Homo sapiens: one gene and its partner. The protein of the gene in region 2 interacts with the protein of the main gene of each other region in a pairwise test. Each region holds a gene or a part of one and is shown on either strand. Other genes may lie near its edges. The genes, in order: HIBADH and PTCH1.

Evidence for each region.
Region 1: the proteins of PTCH1 (region 2) and HIBADH interact in binary tests that used the Homo sapiens proteins (3 or more experiments, as listed by UniProt).

Annotation. Positions count from the first base shown.
Region 1 is NC_000007.14:27,659,057-27,668,297, forward strand, and holds the start of HIBADH (3-hydroxyisobutyrate dehydrogenase, mitochondrial isoform 1 precursor), read right to left. Parts: upstream 3,828-9,241; 5' UTR 3,733-3,827; coding exon 3,642-3,732; intron 1-3,641.
Region 2 is NC_000009.12:95,442,441-95,451,476, forward strand, and holds the end of PTCH1 (protein patched homolog 1), read right to left. Parts: intron 7,501-9,036; coding exon 7,401-7,500; intron 6,884-7,400; coding exon 6,629-6,883; intron 5,012-6,628; coding exon 4,472-5,011; 3' UTR 4,471-4,471; intron 3,952-4,470; 3' UTR 540-3,951; downstream 1-539.

The DNA of each region.
Region 1 (9,241 bases), on a different chromosome or scaffold from region 2:
ATCCAATGAGTTATGCTACTTTGAAAGTAAATTTCACATATACAAAAAGGACCAATAATATTAAAAATTGTATTCCTGTTTCTATACATGATGCTAATTTTTCCATTCTACCTTTGGTCAGGTGGTCACCTCAAGATGATCTGATGTGATTTATTTTTCCATGTACAAGCTGTAGAGTCACAACGTGACATTTTGTAGAGGGCCTATAGCTGTAGATTTTCTTCTCTGTACAAATAAGTCTGAAACTAAACTTAATTACCTTCTAAAATAACATACACAATTTTATCAAACAGGTGATGAAATAGTAATACATGTACACTTTAACATTTCTCATTCTTCTATTTCCTTTTCAATGCTTTAAGTATTTTAAAATTAGGCTTAGGCACAGTGGCTCATGACTGTAATCCCAGTACTTTGGGAGGCTGAGGCAGGAGGATCAGTTGACCCCCAGAGTTCAAGACCAGGCTGGGCAACATGGTGAGACCCCATCTCTACAAAAAAAATAAATAAATAAATAAAGCCAGGTGTGGTGGTGTGCACCTGTGGTCCCAGCTACTTGGGAGGCTGAGGCAGGGGGATTGCTTGAGCCCACGAGGTTGAGGCTGCAATGAGCCATGATTGCACCACTGCACTCCAGCCTGGACAAGAGAGAGAGAGAGACCCCATCTCAAATAAACAAACAAACAAACAAACAAACATTTAAAAATTAAGATGTGGCAGGCTGGGCACAGTGGCTAATGCCTGTAAGCCCAACACTTTGGGAGGTCAAGGCAAGAGGATGGCTTCACGCCAGTAGTTCTAGACCAGCGTAGTAGGCAACTAGCCTTGTCTCAAAAAACATTTTTTTTTAAATTAGCTAGGTATCGTGGTGCACCCTGCAATCCTAACTACTTGGGAAGCTGAGGCGGAAGATCACTTGAGTACAGGAGTTCAAGGTTGCAGTGAGCTAAGTAGGTGCCATTGTACTCCTGCCTGGACAACACGGGGAGACCTGTCTCTAAAATGTATTTATAAAAAAGTTAAAAAGATGTGCTACTAACCGGCAACTTTCAGGTTTCATTTTTTTAAACAGTAAATTATATAGCTCCTTATAATATTATCATTCATATGATATAAACATCTTAAACATACTACAAATATCCAACAGAATTCAGAACATCACACATTACTATCTGAACATGGTTCTTTTTCTTAATGTCATTTGACTCCAAACTTGCAGGCAGATTTTTTTCTACTCTTTAAGAATCTAATGTCAGAAAAGTTAACACTTTTGCAGTAAACTAAAATTAACAGAAATTTAAATGTTTAAAACAATTCCAAAGAAAGGCCGGGCACAGTGGCTCACGCCTGTAATCCCAGCACTCTGGGAGGCCAAGGCGGGCGGATCACGAGGTCAAGTGATAGAGACCATCCTGGCTAACATGGTGAAACCCCGTTTCTACTAAAAAATACCAAAAAACTAGCCGGGCGTGGTGGCAGGCGCCTGTAGTCCCAGGTACTCCGGAGGCTGAGGCAGGAGAATGGCGTGAACCTGGGAGGCGGAGCTTGCAGTGAGCTGAGATTGCGCCAATGCACTCTAGCCTGGGCGACAGACAAAGACTCCGAGGGAAAAAAAAAAATTTTTTTCAAGAGAAAAAAAAATTGCTTAAGTGATTTAACCACTTCATCACAAAAGAACTATTTAAAATTTATCAGAAATCTATATTCTGACAATTACCTTTGGGCCAAAGAACCCAAAGTACAAGACCATATGCCAAAGTAGTCTAATCAGCACTCTGAGGTAGGCCCTCCCAGTTTACAGAGGCACGTATTACAGTCTTAGGCCTCAGGCTCTTTCACCATGAATTGGTAAGAACTTTCATAACTCTAAAAGGTACATCAAGGGTTCATTAAAATACCATTAGAACACCTTGTAAAACCACTAAACAGCAAATATGTCTTCCTTGGCTAATGGGAACTGAAAGAATTGTGAATTCATGTGAAAACTGGTGCTACTGTGGAAAAGTGTCTATTCTTTTAGGGTTATCTCAAAAGTCGGAAGCATTTTTGTAGCTCAATATATGAAGCTCAAACAGTGGTTACATTCAAGTTTGGCATATTCTGAGTTTTTATCTTGTTACTGTGGTTCTGTATCAGACATCTGGTCTCTTGCATCTCACCGAGCCTCTGTTCTTCTCCAGCCAGAAAGGAAATTCAGAGGTTTCACTGAGGGGGAGAATGGGAAGCTGTTAAGAATTGTAAGAGAAAGTTCTTACAATTCCTGGCCAGCCACAGTGGTTCATGCCTATAATCCCAACGCTTTGGGAGGATCACTTGAGCGCAGGAGTTCAAGACCAGCCTGGGCAACATGGCGAAACTCCGTCCCTACTAAAAATACAAAAATTGGACGGGCGTGGTGGCACATGCCTGTAATCCCAGCTACTCGGGAGGCTGAGGTGGGAGGATCACCTGAGCCCAGGAGGTCGAGACTGCAGTGAGCAGTGTGACTGGGCCACTGCACTCCAGCCTGGGCGACAGAGACCCTGTCTCAAAAAAAAAAAAAAAAAAAAAAAAGGGCGGGGGGCCAAGGGGCTCAAATCCTAACCCACTATTTTTTTTTTAAGCAAAGATTAGAAAAAATTAATGCCAAGGTTTTTTTTGTTATTAATCCTCAGTATGATCTTGCTAAACGATGCATTGTTACAACTCTCAAACTTTCAGTTTGAGGAAGACAACGGCAGTGCCCCCACAAATCAACCAATTTTTCAATTAAAGAGGAGTCCTGGTGTGATAGAAAGTTAAGGAATTAGGAACAACTGATAACAACTTTCTAGGTCTTGCTGGGAATATCCTGATTCACTCATCCAAGGGGCCTCATGTCCCTCGTGCGGAGTATGAAAGACTGTATTAGATCTCCGTGGATCTTCATCCTGGCTCTAAAAACTGCCTCTTTGTAAGTTCATGGCTAGCTTCCACAATTTACCATGGTATGAGAGGAGGGAGGCAGGATTAATTCTGCCCACAATCTTGAGGACGCTGAACGTGTTTTGGTTCATAATTTGACAAAAATGACATTTTTTTAGGTTACAGTAGAGGGGGGAAGCCCGTCTTGCTGGTCAAGGGTGACTGAAACTTTGCTGAAAGACTTACTGCCTGGCTTGTACAGCCACCGCTTGTGTAATAAGGCCATCCCCTCGGACTCAGGTGGTTAAACATCAGGCCCTGCTGCCCAAGTGTGTCCCCAACCCAAGGTGCACCCTGGGGGCGCTGAAAGACCAGGGGTCGCTGGGGTGAGTGCGGGTTGCTCCTGGAGTTGGGCGCTCCAAACGTCCTCGGAGTCCTAACTCCAAAGCAGCATGCCGGGGTCCCAAATACTCTCTTCTCTTCAGCCCAAGCTCTTCCCCACCTCTTCCTAAATCCCGAAAAGGGCGCTGAACCCGTTCATCAGGAGCCCGGGAGAAAGGGAGGGAAGGCAGAGGGGGGTACTCGCGGAGTGAGTGGCGGCCGCAGAAAAGGACAGGCCTTTAGTACCAGCCAAAATATTGTTTTTTAAGCCCCAGCCCAACCGCAGGGCCTCCCGAGAAAAGACTTCTTCGGCCGTCTGGACAGAAGAAGCGAGCGGCCGAAAGAAGGACAAGGGGGAGGAGGCGTGAGGTCCTTACCCGCTGCAAAGCTGCCGGCTGCCGGCCGCAGCCGCCGGCTCCAGTACCGGAGACCGGAGGCAGCTCCGAGGAGCCGTAAGGAGGCTGCCATGCTGCGCCCGCCCCTCTCCCCGCGGTGACCTCCGCCGCCTCCCGGAGGGCCCACAGACTGCGAGCGTGTGCAGCGGGACTGGCTGGCTCGCCCACGGAGAAGGGCGCGCGCGCACGCGCTCTCACCGCTCGGGGGCGGGTGCCCACGCGCGAGGGAAGGAGCGCGGAGCCGAGAGGAGCGGCCTGACGCGGCAGGGCCTGTCAATCCCTTTACGGACAGGGAAGCAGACCAATCAGAATTCCCAGGTCCGCAGCTGTGCGAAGGACCAATAAGAGGCCTTTTTGAACAGTGACGCCAGGCGCCCTGGCGCTGCCCCCAAGCTCGTGCCTCATTTACAGCCTGCGGGCGGGAGTCTCCTTGTTTACCAAAGCAGAGGGCGTGTGGGAGGCGGGGGCCGTCGCTCGCTCCCGCCTCCTCGGAAACCTTGTCCCCACAACCGCTGCGTGTTAAAAAGGACAAAACTGACTCGCAGCTTGAAAAACACTCAGAAAGCTACCATGTGTGTAATAACTTTTAAATTCATTTGATTTTACTTAACACAACAGTTTCTCAATACTAAAAATAGTAGGAAAAGAAGTTGGTAACATTATCTTTGAAGGGAAGAGTTACTAGAAACTTGCACTTTCTATTTCAAGGCATATTTCTCTAATCTTTGAAAATTCTACACCCTAAATCCATTTTGTAAGCAAAACTAAATATAAAATCCAGAAAGTAGTAGTATATGTATGTGTATTAGAAAGACCTTTTTTTTTTTTGGAGACGGAGTCTCTCTGTCACCCAGGCTGGAGTGCAGTGGCGCGATCTCGGCTCACTGCAATCTCCGCCTCCCGGGTTCAAGTGATTCTCCTGCTTCAGCCTCCGGAGTAGGTGAGGTGGGACTATAGGCCTGCGTGCGCCACCACACCCGGCTAATTTTTTTGGCACTTTGAGTAGAGGCGGGGTGTCGCCATTTTGCCTAGGCTGGTCTCAAACTCCTGGCGTCAAGTGATCCGCCCGCCTCGGCCTCCCAAAGTGCTGGTTATTACAGGCGTGAGCCACTGCGCGGTGCAGAGAGACAGACATTTAGTCATTCTTCTGTCAATGCTTAGTGTACATATTTGAGTCTGTAAACCCCTTGGGGGTAATTGCAGGCCTTCTCATCTCCACTGACTCCACCAAAGGGTTGGAAGCCATGACCACACCAAAGCAAGACTATAGCCTTTGGAGAATGGCAATACAGCAGGAAAGAGAATGTGTATGGAGTAGCTAGGGAAATGCGAACCCCAATCTAAGTAGCACAATCAACAAAATTTGACTTTGACCTTTTTTTCAACTCAGTAACCCATGGAGTTGAAAGCAAAGGAATTGGATCATTTCCATCTGGGCTCTTTTCATGTTTCTGGGCATGCTGGCAACGTTTCCAAAAACTTAAAAACTTGTACAGAGTGCAAGGTCCCTATCTGTAACTGGGAGGAAGTTAATGCCCTTCTTTGACCATCACTCCACCCCAACCCTCTACCCAACACTAAATGAAAAGAAGGAAGGAAAGGGACGAAGGGAGGGAGGGAGAAAAAACTCATTTCAACAATTAGACCTTCTCCTAGATTTGGGTCCCCACCCCTACTAGGGGTAAATTAGTTTCTGGAGCATTTCCCACCTGTGCCTCTCTTCCTGGTTTCGTCAGGTTTTAGCTGGAATAGATCTCCTGCAGGCAACAAATGTGGGCCTACAGGTTTCTTTTTCTTTTTCTTCCTCCAGCACTACAGGTTTCTATAATTAACTCCTGAACTGCAATTGGTCTTTCAACTGTGTCTCCTCCAAGAAGCCCTGCATTGTCTTCTCCAACAATGTCTCCTCCAAGAAGCCCTACATTGATTCATAAACTAAGGAATTTTCATAGGTTTCCATGATTTTAAAGAAGCGTTATGAATTTTTAAGTAATTCTTACTGTTTGAAGGTGCTTGCAGATATTATTGTACTGGCAAATGCAGTTCCTGCCTATGGCTGGTTAGCTTTCTTCATTTGATTGCCCTCCTGATGCCCTTGTTTGAAAGGCACTGCAACTCCTCCCTGAGTCTTTGCCACGCATTTTTGTTTGTAATTGTTTCAATGCCTTATAGTGGCCCCTGACTTCCGCTTCCAGGAAGATGGAGTAGATAGGTTTCTCCCTATTCTTCTAAGTACAACTAAAAACTCAACATTATATATAAGATAAACATAGGGAGACTTTGAAAGGTGGAGAGAAGTCACACTGGCTAGGGTCCAGAGAGCAACACGGTGGGAAGTTCCTTGGGTTTTCATGTAGCCTTATATACCCCAAACTGGGTGCTGGAGAAGCCAAAACCAGAAACCCCAAAATGCCAGGAAGCATAGATAGACAAAAAGTGCCCCAATAAAAGGCTGCTCTTTCTAGCCAAGTGATGAAAAAGGAGTGGCCTAGCAAGAAAGGAAACATTTAGAAGATAATCACTCCACTGTAGACAAACAATACACACATACATACACACACTGACCCCACCCCATAAAGCAAAGGCTGAGTTGGGAGCCTAGACTTCCACACTCTCCAGGTTGTGATGAGACACCCCAGCATCCTAACACCCCAATCGCTCTACTCCTCAACCCCTCTAAGGTGATGTCAGAGAAAACCAAAGAGAGGTATGGGATTTTCATCTTCAACTGGGCAGTAACAAGTAATCCTCCACACACATCCTTCCCTACTCTCAGTGTCACTGGAAACCACAGGGCGACCCTGGATTTCCACTCCTACCTTACAGTGGTGAGGTACCCCTCCCTTTCCCTGCTTAGATGGTGTAATTGGAGGTGTATTGGAGAGTCAGAGCTTTCATCACTGCCCAATGGTAAGGATGTCACACCCCTTCCCCTCCATGGTGTCACTGGAGGCTACATGGGGGCAGTAAGGAGCCATTCCAAGCCCTCTCAACTAGGGAAGTATCAGTGGACAACTAGTGGGGAGCTGAAACTCCCACCATTGCCCAGCAGTAACAAGGAACCACCCACCCTTGGTGTCAACAGAGGTGGAATAAGGAACCTAGACTTCTACTACCAGTTGCCATTTACAAGTTGATGCCCCCTGCCAGAGCAGTGTCAAGAAAAACTAGTTAAAATAAAAGGTTTAAATAATATCCAAAATATCATAATACCCAAATGTCCAGATTTCAACAAAAAATCACTCATGATACCAAATTTCAATTAAAAAATGACTCATGATTCCAAAACCCAGGAAGATTTCAAGCTGAATAAAAAAGACAATAGATGCCAACACTGAGATGACAAGTTAAAATTATCTAACAAAGATTTGAAAGCATCCATCAGAAAATATTTCAAGAAGCAATTAAAACATGCTTGAGGCCAGGCATGGTGGCTCACACCTGTAATCTTAGCACTTTGGGAGGCCGAGGCTGGCAGATCACTTGAGGTGAGGAGTTCAAGATCAGCCTGGCCAACATGGTAAAACCCCATCTCTTCCAAAAAAATACAAAAATTACCCAGGTGTGGTGGTGGGCACCTGTAATCCCAGCAACTCAGGAGGCTGAGGCAGGAGAATCACTTGAACCCAGGAGGCGGAGGTTGCAGTGAGCTATCACGCCACTGCACTCCAGCCTGGATGGCAGAGTGAGACTCCTTCTCAAAAAGTAAAATAAAACAATAAAACATGCTTGAATTAAATAAAAAGAAATCTCAGCAAAGAAACAACATATAAAGAAGAAATAAATGGAAATTTTAAAACTGAAAAAATGCAAGAAATACAATTTTTTAACTCAACAGCAGAATAAAGAAAAGAATCACTGAGCTAGAAGATAGAACAGTAGAAACTATCTAATCTAAACAGAGAGAAACTAGACTGGGATTTAAAAAGCTACGAAGCGCTGGGCGAGGTGGCTCAAGCCTGTAATCCCAGCACTTTGGGAGGCCAAGGCGGGCGGATCACGTGGTCAGGAGATCGGGACCATCCTGGCTAATACGGTGAAACCCCGTCTCTACTAAAAATACAAAAAAATTAGCCAGGTGTGGTGGCGGGCGCCTGTAGTCCCAGCTACTCGGGAGGCTGAGGCAGGAGAATGGCGTGAACCCAGGAGGTGGAGCTTGCAGTGAGCCGAGATTGTGCCACTGCACTCCAGCCTGGGCGACAGAGCGAGACTCCGTCTCAAAAAAAAAAAGCCACGAAGCTCAGGGGCATGTGTTGTGACTCTTAACAAAAGATCTAACATTCAGCTGGGTGTGGTGGCCCACGCCTGTAATCCCACTTTGGGAGGCCCAAGCAGGTGGATCACCTGAGGTCAGGAGTTCAAGACCAGCCTGGCCAACATGGTGAAACCTCGTGTCTACCTAAAATACAAAAATCAGCTGGGCATGGTGGTGGGCGCCTGTAATCCCAGCTACTCAGGAGGCTGAGGCAGGAGAATCGATTGAACCTGGGAGCAGGAGGTTGCAGTGAGCCGAGATCGCGTTACTGCACTCCAGCCTGGACAACAAGAGTGAAACTCCGTCTCAAAAAAAAAAAATCTAACATTCCTGTCATCAGAATCTCAGAATCTGGGAAGAAGAGGAATAAGACTTTCCCAACAATACCCACACTATCTAATCATTTTTACGCCTATTCCTAAGATATCATTCTCTCTGTACTCACCTCCCTGACAATGCAGTACTCTTTCCCTTTCCCAGAGCACTCTGAGTTCCTCAGGTTCTCTGCTTTTCTTCTTTCCTTCCTTTCTCTTTTCCACACATTCTAATACTGCTTCTACACTCCCCACTTGTTAGGACTCAACTCAAAGTGACTTTCCTCAAGAAGTCTTTTTCTGAATAATATATAAGCAGTCATAAAAACAATCCAGTTTGATTAAGAAACTACATTTAAAGTCACTTTCAAAAACTATCAGCATCAGGTTTGGTTGGATAAAACAAAGTCCAAATGATAACAATTTGGTTTTTCCTCTCATAAAAGTAGTGTGGATGTAGGCAGAACCAGGGCCAGTTTGACAGCTCTGAGTTGTCAAAATTCCAAACTTCTCATTTTGTTTTACTGTCTAAAATGATTTTCTAACCTCATAATTACTTCATGATCAAAGATAGCTGCTAGTGGTCCAACCATCTTGTCTGAGTTCCAGGCAAGAGGAAAGAAAAGGAGGGAAAAGTAAAGGAAAGAGGTGTGTCAGCAAACTGTTCTCATTTTCAGAAGCCTCCCTATAAGTCCCACCCCACAATTGTCCTTCCCACTGGCCAGAACTTAGTCACTTAGCCATAAGATTTGGATGGCATGACAAGTCTTTGTTCTAGGCAGTTTTAAAAATTTTGGAACACAAAACACCGGTAAGATAATTGAGTTGTGTCCTAAGATAAGAGCAAATCTAAGTACATATTATTGCATTTATTTAAATGGATTAAAGTTGGAGACATCAGTATGAACTCATGCTTAACTTAATATAGATACAGATGGTTACATATAGAAATATTTATCAATGTGTATATAGACACAGGTTAGTATACACATGTCTCTTTGCTCTGTCATCTG
Region 2 (9,036 bases):
ACTCCAAGATTCTGAGTTAGGTGGTGTTGGATTCGGTTTTTCTAGCAAGCTTCCAAGGCAGGCTGATTCGTGGACCACACTTGACTAGCACTGGCCTATGTTACCTTGTCTAGAGATGGATTGGCAGGTGTCTTACGGCCAGATAGTAAATATCATAGTCTCTGCAGACCATAGTCTGTGTTGCAGCTACTGAACTCTGCCGTTGCAGCAGAAAAACAGCCATCAACAACATGTGCGGCAACAGGCACGACTCTCTCCTCATGAACCTGTGCAACAGGACATGGCCAGCCGGCTGTGGCTCACTGACCCCTCTGCAACTTGCCCATGTGCACAGCAGTGTGGGCCTTGAGTTCAGCCCCACCACTCCTTGCTTACACAGCTGTAACATGGACATGATATTCCTGGCCATATTTTTCTCCATGCCTATGATGAAATCATTGCTTACCAGGAAACACTCAAAAACTGTTCTGTATCAGGTTCAATCAATTCCATATTATCTTTGACACTGTTTAGAAGTATGACACCTTCACTGATGATAATCATCTTTGAATTTGGCTTTATTTATGTTCCCTCATTATTAGGCATCACATAAGGGAAATAAGTATGCTAAGAGAGATGACAGAAGGACTAATTTTGATGGTTAACTTAGGAAGTTTCTTGGTATGAGAAAACAAAAATAGGGTCAGGTGATAAGAAATTAATTAATGGGTACAATGTACACTATTTGGGTGATGATCACACTAAAAGCTCAGCCCCCACTTTGTAATACATCCATGTAACAGAGCTATGCTTATACCCACTATTTATACAAAACAAAAAGGAGGAAAACCTAAAACTCTCTCCATCAGATAGAGCAAAAAAGAAGAGTGTCACAAGGTCAGCAAGATGAAACAACAGTTTCTGATGGCTCCAACACTAACTGTCTCTCCCAAGTATTTTAAAGAAAAAAAGCATTCTACAAACAAAGATATAACCAACAAGTTATATTATTTTTTATTCATGTTAGAATTTCTATCAGTGTTTGAACATTAATTATTTAGAGAGTTTGTACATTTTCACCTTCCAAGGTTTGAAATGAGAAGCATGCTAGGTCGCCAATGGTAACTAATAAACACTTCATAATCGCATGAATATCCACTCTGCTCTGACTCTCTTAACACTGTTAAACATTTTCTTTCCTTGCTGTAATTTACAATGAAAACTGTGCCCACTCATGTCTCAGCAAAGTTCCAGACATTATGGATTCATCACATATAAATTCTTTAAAAATATACTTCTGTCAAAAGACTTGATGACTACTATGTACACTACAAAAATAAATCTTCATATAAATAAATTATATGGCATACTTTTATCTTTGTAATTGAAATGACACAAACTCATTTCCACCAAAATTGGCAATGAGACCCAGTTTGAATATTTATTTCCTTTAAACTCCTTACCCTAAAACCTACCATGAGTCCTTAATGTAAATGTTATATACTCTGAACTATTTAACATTAGTAAGCACTCTATACAAATAAAAATTCTGTCCAAAAGTAAAACATAGCTGTAATGTTTCCAATAGAAATAAAATCCCTGCATTTTTTTTTGTTATAAACTGGCATGACAAATACTGTAGAGGAAAACATTCTTATGATACAAAATTATAAATATCAGCAAAGTTTTTTTTTTTTTAAAAATTAAAACATCCAAATGAACAAACAGGACAGACAAAATAAAACTATTAAAAGAGAGAGAGAAATTCTAATTCCCTGCCAGCCCCACCCCCCGCCCACCCCAGTTCTCCCTTTGCCAATGTGACTATTGGAGAAAGTTCTACACCATGCAGAAATCAGGGGCCGCGCAGCCTCCGGCGCAACACGAGCTGGGCTCAGGAAGGGAGCGAGGGCACGCCAGGAGCCAGAGGGAAGTCGACTTCAGAATTCTGCATCATCCCTCCTCCACGCAGGACGTTTTCTGAGCAGAGCTGGGTGTTAGGATGGCAGACCATGTGGGTGACAGGCACCAAGACAGCAGCAGGGGGGTGGCCAGGGTCCCCAGCAGAGACACACACACACGCACGCACGCACACACACACACACACACCCAGCAGCCACAAGCGGCTCCCAATCAGCATCTTAAAAGTTTTGTGGTGAGTATCAGGGTCTGAGGTCACTATGCTGTGGGTATTTCTGGGGGCCCATTACCTTTCTGTTAAGATTTCCCAGGTAATTTAAAAGGGAGTAACAGGAGCTGCCACTCGTGAGCGCCTCACAGTAGCTTAGGCTTCAGCCCTGCAGGGACCCCGCCCTTTCCTCTGACTTCTTGTCTGTAACAAGGTGCTGGTGTGGATTTGGATGGGGAGCCGACACTGGGTGCTTCCCTGACATGTGCTGGTCTCTGGTTACGAGATGAGGGAGCCCACACCTCAGAGCAAAAGAAGAGAACCAGTACAGAAGCAACTTTTAAAAATATGCCTGGTTGAGAGACCTGCCCCTGCCTACATCTTTCAGTGGGGTGTGTCCATCCTCCTGCTTTCCCACATCACATTGAAAGAGCACTAATGACGGGGAGGATGGAGACAATGTTTGGATTTACTTAGGAAGCACGTACCCTAAACACTGGTGCATGAAGAATCCCCCCGGAGCTCTTATCCTACATAATGCCTGCCTCTACACCACAATGCATGCTCACCACTTAGTTTTAAAGAAGATGCAAACAGATCTAGAAAGCCTCAACCAGCTGCTCCATTTAAGAGAGGGAGTTTAAACTATAGGGACTCAAAACATCATTTCTGGGAGACTGTGGGCCAAGAAAGAATTAACTAAATAGGTTTTTCTACCTGTGACAGGGCCACATCCACTCTTGAATTTGGGGGTGTTGGGGGAGGGGTCGTGTGTGTGTTGGTCAGAAGAGGGGCACCATGCTGCATGCTTTTTAGAGTATACAGACTCTCATGGCCCAGCCAAGGCTCAGCACTAGGCATGTCACCGAATTCTCTAACACCCACCATGATGAACTGATGTGAGCTCCATACCCTGAGGTTCCAGCATCCATCACAATGATCCGAGAGAAGGAGATTATCCCCCTGAAGCACAAATTGGGGTCCTGGATGGCAGCCAATGATCATAAGAGATGCCGTAGACACGAGGAGAGTCTAGCTTTTGCCGGGCTGATTTGAAAGGATTAGGTGGATGTTTAGGGCCAGCCCTCACCAGCACGAAGAAAAGATATCCTGACGCTTCCAGCCTGACTAGGTCAGAGCCTACTACAGGTTACAGACAGTGTAGAGAAACAAAACAAGACAAAAAAAAAATCACAGTACAGTACATGGTGAACTCACACACGTGTTCACACGCACAGCCAAACAAGAGGACCGCACACAACGACACCTAGAGAAGCCACCAGGATTAACGTGCTTTCTTCATATCTGCTCATTAAACAAAAAAATTATCACGCATAGCGTGTTTGAAAGTTAACAGTAACATTTCATACTACCACAGGGTTGTGATATGCAAATTTAAAATATTTTAAACAGAAACCTTTACAAAATAATCCTATTACATAAGCAATATTTGCATAGAATTATACAAGTAAATTATACAATATTTAAGCAGCAGCAACATATGCTGAAATTTAAGACTAATGAAGCTTGGTTGTGGCACGGAGCCCAATGCACAAATACGGAGAGGCCCCACTGTGGCCTCCACACTCTGGGGCAGGAGTGGAGAAGCCCCAGATCATACCACTTTACATCCTTCCTTCCTATATTACACATGTGTACATCTCTTAAATATTTATAGAAATATTTAACAAAATAATACAATCGGTTACAGTAACAATGAACTGCTGTCCTGGCACAGGGCATCTTTTCCATAACTCCAACCAGTTCTCTTCAAGCAGTTCTGGAAAGAGGTGGGGGTGGGGGGTTTCCAATCTTTGGCCTCTTTGCTTCAGATTTTAATCACCCTTTAAAAGGAAGCAAAAAAGGAAGTTGAACAGAGTAAGAGGTGTGCAAGTCCGTATTTATAAAGTACAAAAGCAGGCAGCAGTAACCTTGGTATTAGAAATCACGAGAGTGGGGTGTGGGCCTGAGGTGTCCCTGGGGGCTGCTTGTGACCTCTCCCTTCATCTGGGGGCTGGTTACACGGATGCGTTCCCATGTGACCAATTCGCTGTGGCATGCACCTCCATAAAGACTGGCAAATATTGGTAAAAGGTGGTGCTGTTTGTGTCCTTGTGGCGCTGCACCGACCCTCCGCAGGTTAGCAGTGGGGGAAGAGAGCAGTGTGGAGCTGGACTGGTTCCCCAAGGATGACAAAGCTTGGACACATCAGCCTTGCTCTGGGGATAAAAGGTCACTGGGGTCCAGCGTGGGATGTGCCCGAGCGCCACAGCCCCTCGGGGATGCCGAGAACCCCAGGAGAACCTTGTCCTCCTCTTTGCCTGGCTCTAGGTCCCTTGGCTGCCCTTGTCAGTGGCACTCACCTCAGTTGGAGCTGCTTCCCCGGGGCCTCTCCTCGCATTCCACGTCCTGCAGCTCAATGACTTCCACCTTCGAATCCCTCCTCTCACACCGGACGTGGAAAGGCACGTGGGGGTCCTCAAACAGGCCGTGGTCAGTCTCAGGGTAGCCTGGGCAGAGTCCCCCTCGGGGGTTCCGCCCAGGCCCAGGGACAGGCGGCGGGTGCACGGCGACAGTCACGGAGGCAGAAGCCGTCACAGTGGTGATGGGCTGGCAGTAGCCGGGCACGGAGCTGCCCATGGCAGTGGACGCTGGGTTCCGAGGGTTGTGAGAACGGGCCCCGCGAGGGCCCCAGCGGGCCCTATTGCTAGGGCCAGAATGCCCTTCAGTAGAAATTTCAAAAGCGTCTCTGCGCGGTCTGTAGGGGGGTGGCCACAAGCCTTCTCTGGGGGGGTCCCTGCGGGGCTGCTGGCCTTGCCGTCCGGGAGGCAGGGACCCTGAGTCCAGGTGGGGCTGCTGTCTCGGGTTCGAGGGTGGGTGATGCCTGGATTCGGGATGGACCACCTGCAGAGGGTGAGGGTGGGTTAGAAGGGTGGTATCCCAGGCTGGGCATGGTCCCCGCAGCTCCCACACTTCCCTCCTTGGGTTTCACCAAAGACTCAGTCAACCCTGGGGAGCCAATGGGGGCCTTCCACCCACAAAAGAAAAGCCTGTCCTTCTAATAACCTCCAGGACCTGGCGGAGGAGCGTGTTGTTTGAAAATCCTGTTTCCAGGCTTTCTCTGACACGGCTGGCTGGACACGTACTGCTGCTGCCCATAAATGTGGGCTGTGGTCAGAGCATCCAAGCTGCTGCCCCCCACAACCTGCCCCCGACCCTGTTAGGTTCTGCAGGCTCTGAGCTGCCCCTCTCCCGAAGTTGCTAAGTGTGCGGCCCTGGCTGGCCTGAGTGCAGGACGCTGGCAGGACTGTCTCTGCCTACTCTGTCAAACACAGTAGCCGCTCCAGACATGTGGTTGCTTAAGTTTTAATGAACTAAAATCCAAAATCCAGCTCCTCGGTAGCCCCGGCCACATTTCAAGTGCTCCACAGCCACGTGTGGCCGGTGGCTCCCATCCTGGAAAGCAGAGAGGGCATTTTCGTCACTGCGGAGGGCTGTGGCGGGCAGCCTGTTCCATCTGATTGTTAAGAATCTGGTCTCTGCGTCTCTATACAAAGCACAGAGCAACACAGTGGCCACATCAATCAAAAGGACCGTGACCAACTTCAAAGTCGTTCAGCTTGTACCTATTTTTAGGCTCCTGCTGAACAAAACCAGATTCACACTGCAGCTCAGCGGGCGTCGTCGCGGGGGGTAGGAGGAGGACAATTCAGGTTATTTGGTTGGCCTTTCTCTCTTTCACGGAAGGGCTGCTCTGGCCTGGGACTGGAATACCCATTTCCTGGAGGGACAGCAGGGGGCCCTCAGTGGAGCAACATCAGCCCAGAACCTTCCTTGAGTTTTCAGGGCTGAGCCCATCCCAGGGAGCACAGGGTGGAGGAAAGGACCCAGGTCCTTGGAGCCTCCGAGGAGGGGCTCCCAGGCTCCTGGTGACCTCCTGAATCACTGAAGGCTAAGAACTCAGGGGTGGTTCTTGGCCTCTCTGCTCTTTCCTGCCACCTGGAACATGAGCTTGGAGCCCCAAAAGCTATGGTAAAGTATTTAGACAATAATAATGAATGTTGTATCAAGGGCATTGAAACCTAACAGAAATGAGAGAAGGAAAAAACCTGACCTCTGTTGGCAATAAAAATACTACTAGTTTTAGAAAATATCACTCTCAAATGACATGCACCTTAAGAGGAAAAAAAAAAAAAAGGCAGGAATGCTTTATCTCTGGCCTTTGAAGCCCAAACTGTCCTCACCCTGAACAAGATAGATGCTACTGCTTTGTGCAGTGACATTACTGGCCCCTGCCCTTTTTATCCTTTATGAGATCAAACCACAGGAAGATGGCATTTGTATAGTTGAGAAAGAGTTAAATACTGGTTATTTCCTATGATTTGACCTAGTCTGTACCTTATCTCTGCATCCCATCTGCCTGTGTGATGTGCTGCTCAGCAGACAGGAGCCCCCGCTGGACCTCCAGGCCCACTACCACGGTGGGAAGACCCCTCCCCCTGGTTCTGCAGAGTCACTTACAGTGGAGTGGGCGAAGACGGGGTTTTCTGTGGCTTCCACGATCACTTGGTGGGCAGGGCCTCCCGCGCCCTGCTGGGCCTCGTAGTGCCGAAGCTCCTCGCTGAGGCCTGACACTGTCGTCTGGGAACTATACTCCGAGTCGGAGGAATCAGACCCGCTGTGCGTGTGGCCGGGCGGCATGGCGAAGCGGACCACGCTGGGGGGTGGCTCAGGGGAGGGTGTGGGCAGGCGGTTCAAGCCGTTGGCTGGAGACACCTATTTAAGGGGATTCCATGTTAAAAGTGTTCTTGTCCATTTACCTGCTGGCCACACTCAAAGCTCAAAGCACGGTATTTTTCAGGGGCCTCTGTTCCCTGCCCTGGGGCCCTGCGCACTGTGCCGTATTAACCTCCCCTTCTCTACCACCTGGAGGACCTTCAGGTCCCGCAGCTGGAGCAGAAGAACTGTCCTCTGCTCCACACTGGAAAGGCAGGATGTGTACTTTTTACTCTTGTGAAGTCCAATTATGCATCTCAAGGGGAAAGTCTTCATTTACTGTATAAAGATCTGTAAGACCCAGGCTGCCAATCAGTTGATTTAGAGGAACCAAACCGAACCCGCCCTCTAGCCCTCAAAGCCAGTACACCGAAGAGGAAAACAGACATGACTCTGAGATGTTTACTGAAGAACCACCAGCAAGTGGGGAGGCACCTAAGTATCGAAGTGAAGAGCGGCACAGGAAACACAGCATTCAGCCGGCCTACACGTGGGACATCCCCGTGTCACTACTGACCTCAGGATATGGTCCAAAGAAAGACAAAAGCACGGGAAGCAAAACCAGCCCATTGAGAACGCCGAGGATGGTGAGGATCGCCAGCACAGCAAAGAAATACCTGGGAGATCAAGAGGAAACGGGAACACGCGCTGTGACAGGGTGGATCGCGCCACCCTCCGTGTGCCCGACACAGCAGCATGGCAACGCCAGAAATGAACAAAACCCACCCCACTGAAAAGGCTGTTATCCAACCGCAGTTCACATTCAACACAAGGTGAGTTTTTGCTTTTTGTTTCTTTACCTTATGACTTTGAGGACTACATTCCACAACCCAAAGTGTTAGTTCATGAAGGGAAGAAAAAAAAAATTAGTTTGTTAATTTGCTGAACTCTGATGGCATGTAATGTTATTTATGAATGTGTTACACAAACACAAAAATATGGAATGCGACCTGAATGGCTGGGCAGACTGAAAGCACAAACACAATGCCGAGGGGCCCCGCTCGTGAAAACCCAGCAGAAGCAAACAAATGAAGTGAAGGGTGTAGAATTTAAACAATTTAGCCCAGGAGGAAAAGCAGCCCACTTCTGCAGGCTGCTAATCCACTGTGAAATGCTTCTGCATCTTACGGCAGAATCTCTAATTAAGTCTCTAGCATATCAGGTAAGGCTTTCCCTGGCCTTTCATTAATCACAACTTTCTGCCTAGAATTCTGTGAGTTCCAGTTTTACCAAATAGCTCCAATTGCAACCTTTTTAGAACACAGGAACCAGCTTTCTGCAAAGAAAATGCTGCCCATTCTGTGGGAGCTGGGGCATTGTGCTGGGTGAGGGCACTCCACAATGGCGGGGCTGCTCTGCGGGCCAATCTTTTGTTGAACAATTTAGCATCTCTGAATACTCTTGTTTTGCGTCAGCCAATTCAAACATAAAGGCCGCAGCACCATGGCAGAGGAGGAGAGTGCAGAAGTAGTTCTGCTTTCCCACCATTGAGGGCTAAGGTCTGGAATCCTTCATGAATACCAAGGTAAACCTGTCAGCCAGGGACAGCCTCTGGCAGACACTCTGCATGGCTGGAGGGCACAGACTCCACGCAGGGATGCGTTTCTGGAACTAATGATTTCTAGGGCAACTCTGATGGAAGTGGGCTGGGGTAGGGGAGAGGCTCAGGATGTTCTGGGAAGGGGGGGGCAAGATATCTATCTGTTAATGGTCCTCTGGTTCATAAAATGGAACAGGCAACCAGTGCTGCCATGTCTATATATGTTTTGACATCAGATGAAAGGAGAGAGAATCCCCATAAAAATACAAATACCTCACAGCTATTGTAAACACTAGAAACTTCTGAACTACATTAGTAAAAACCAAGCAGCCAATGTCTTGGTCTAATGTAAACTGCTGGAACTTTCGGCTGGGGCATGTATCAGCAGCCACATTAAGACATTTGCATCCCATCCATCTAGCTGAAGCATAAACAGGCCAATTAGATTTCTGACGGCTTAGCATATACAGTGTCTGCTCATTTATTTGACCTTGGTGAGGCCTTTATCAGGTTAATCCATCCCATCCTAGAAAATGGGAAGCCCTTTTAAGTGCTTGAAAGAGGAACCCTGATATTTCTGGGCGGGAACAACCCCGGCTGAGAGGAGAGCGCT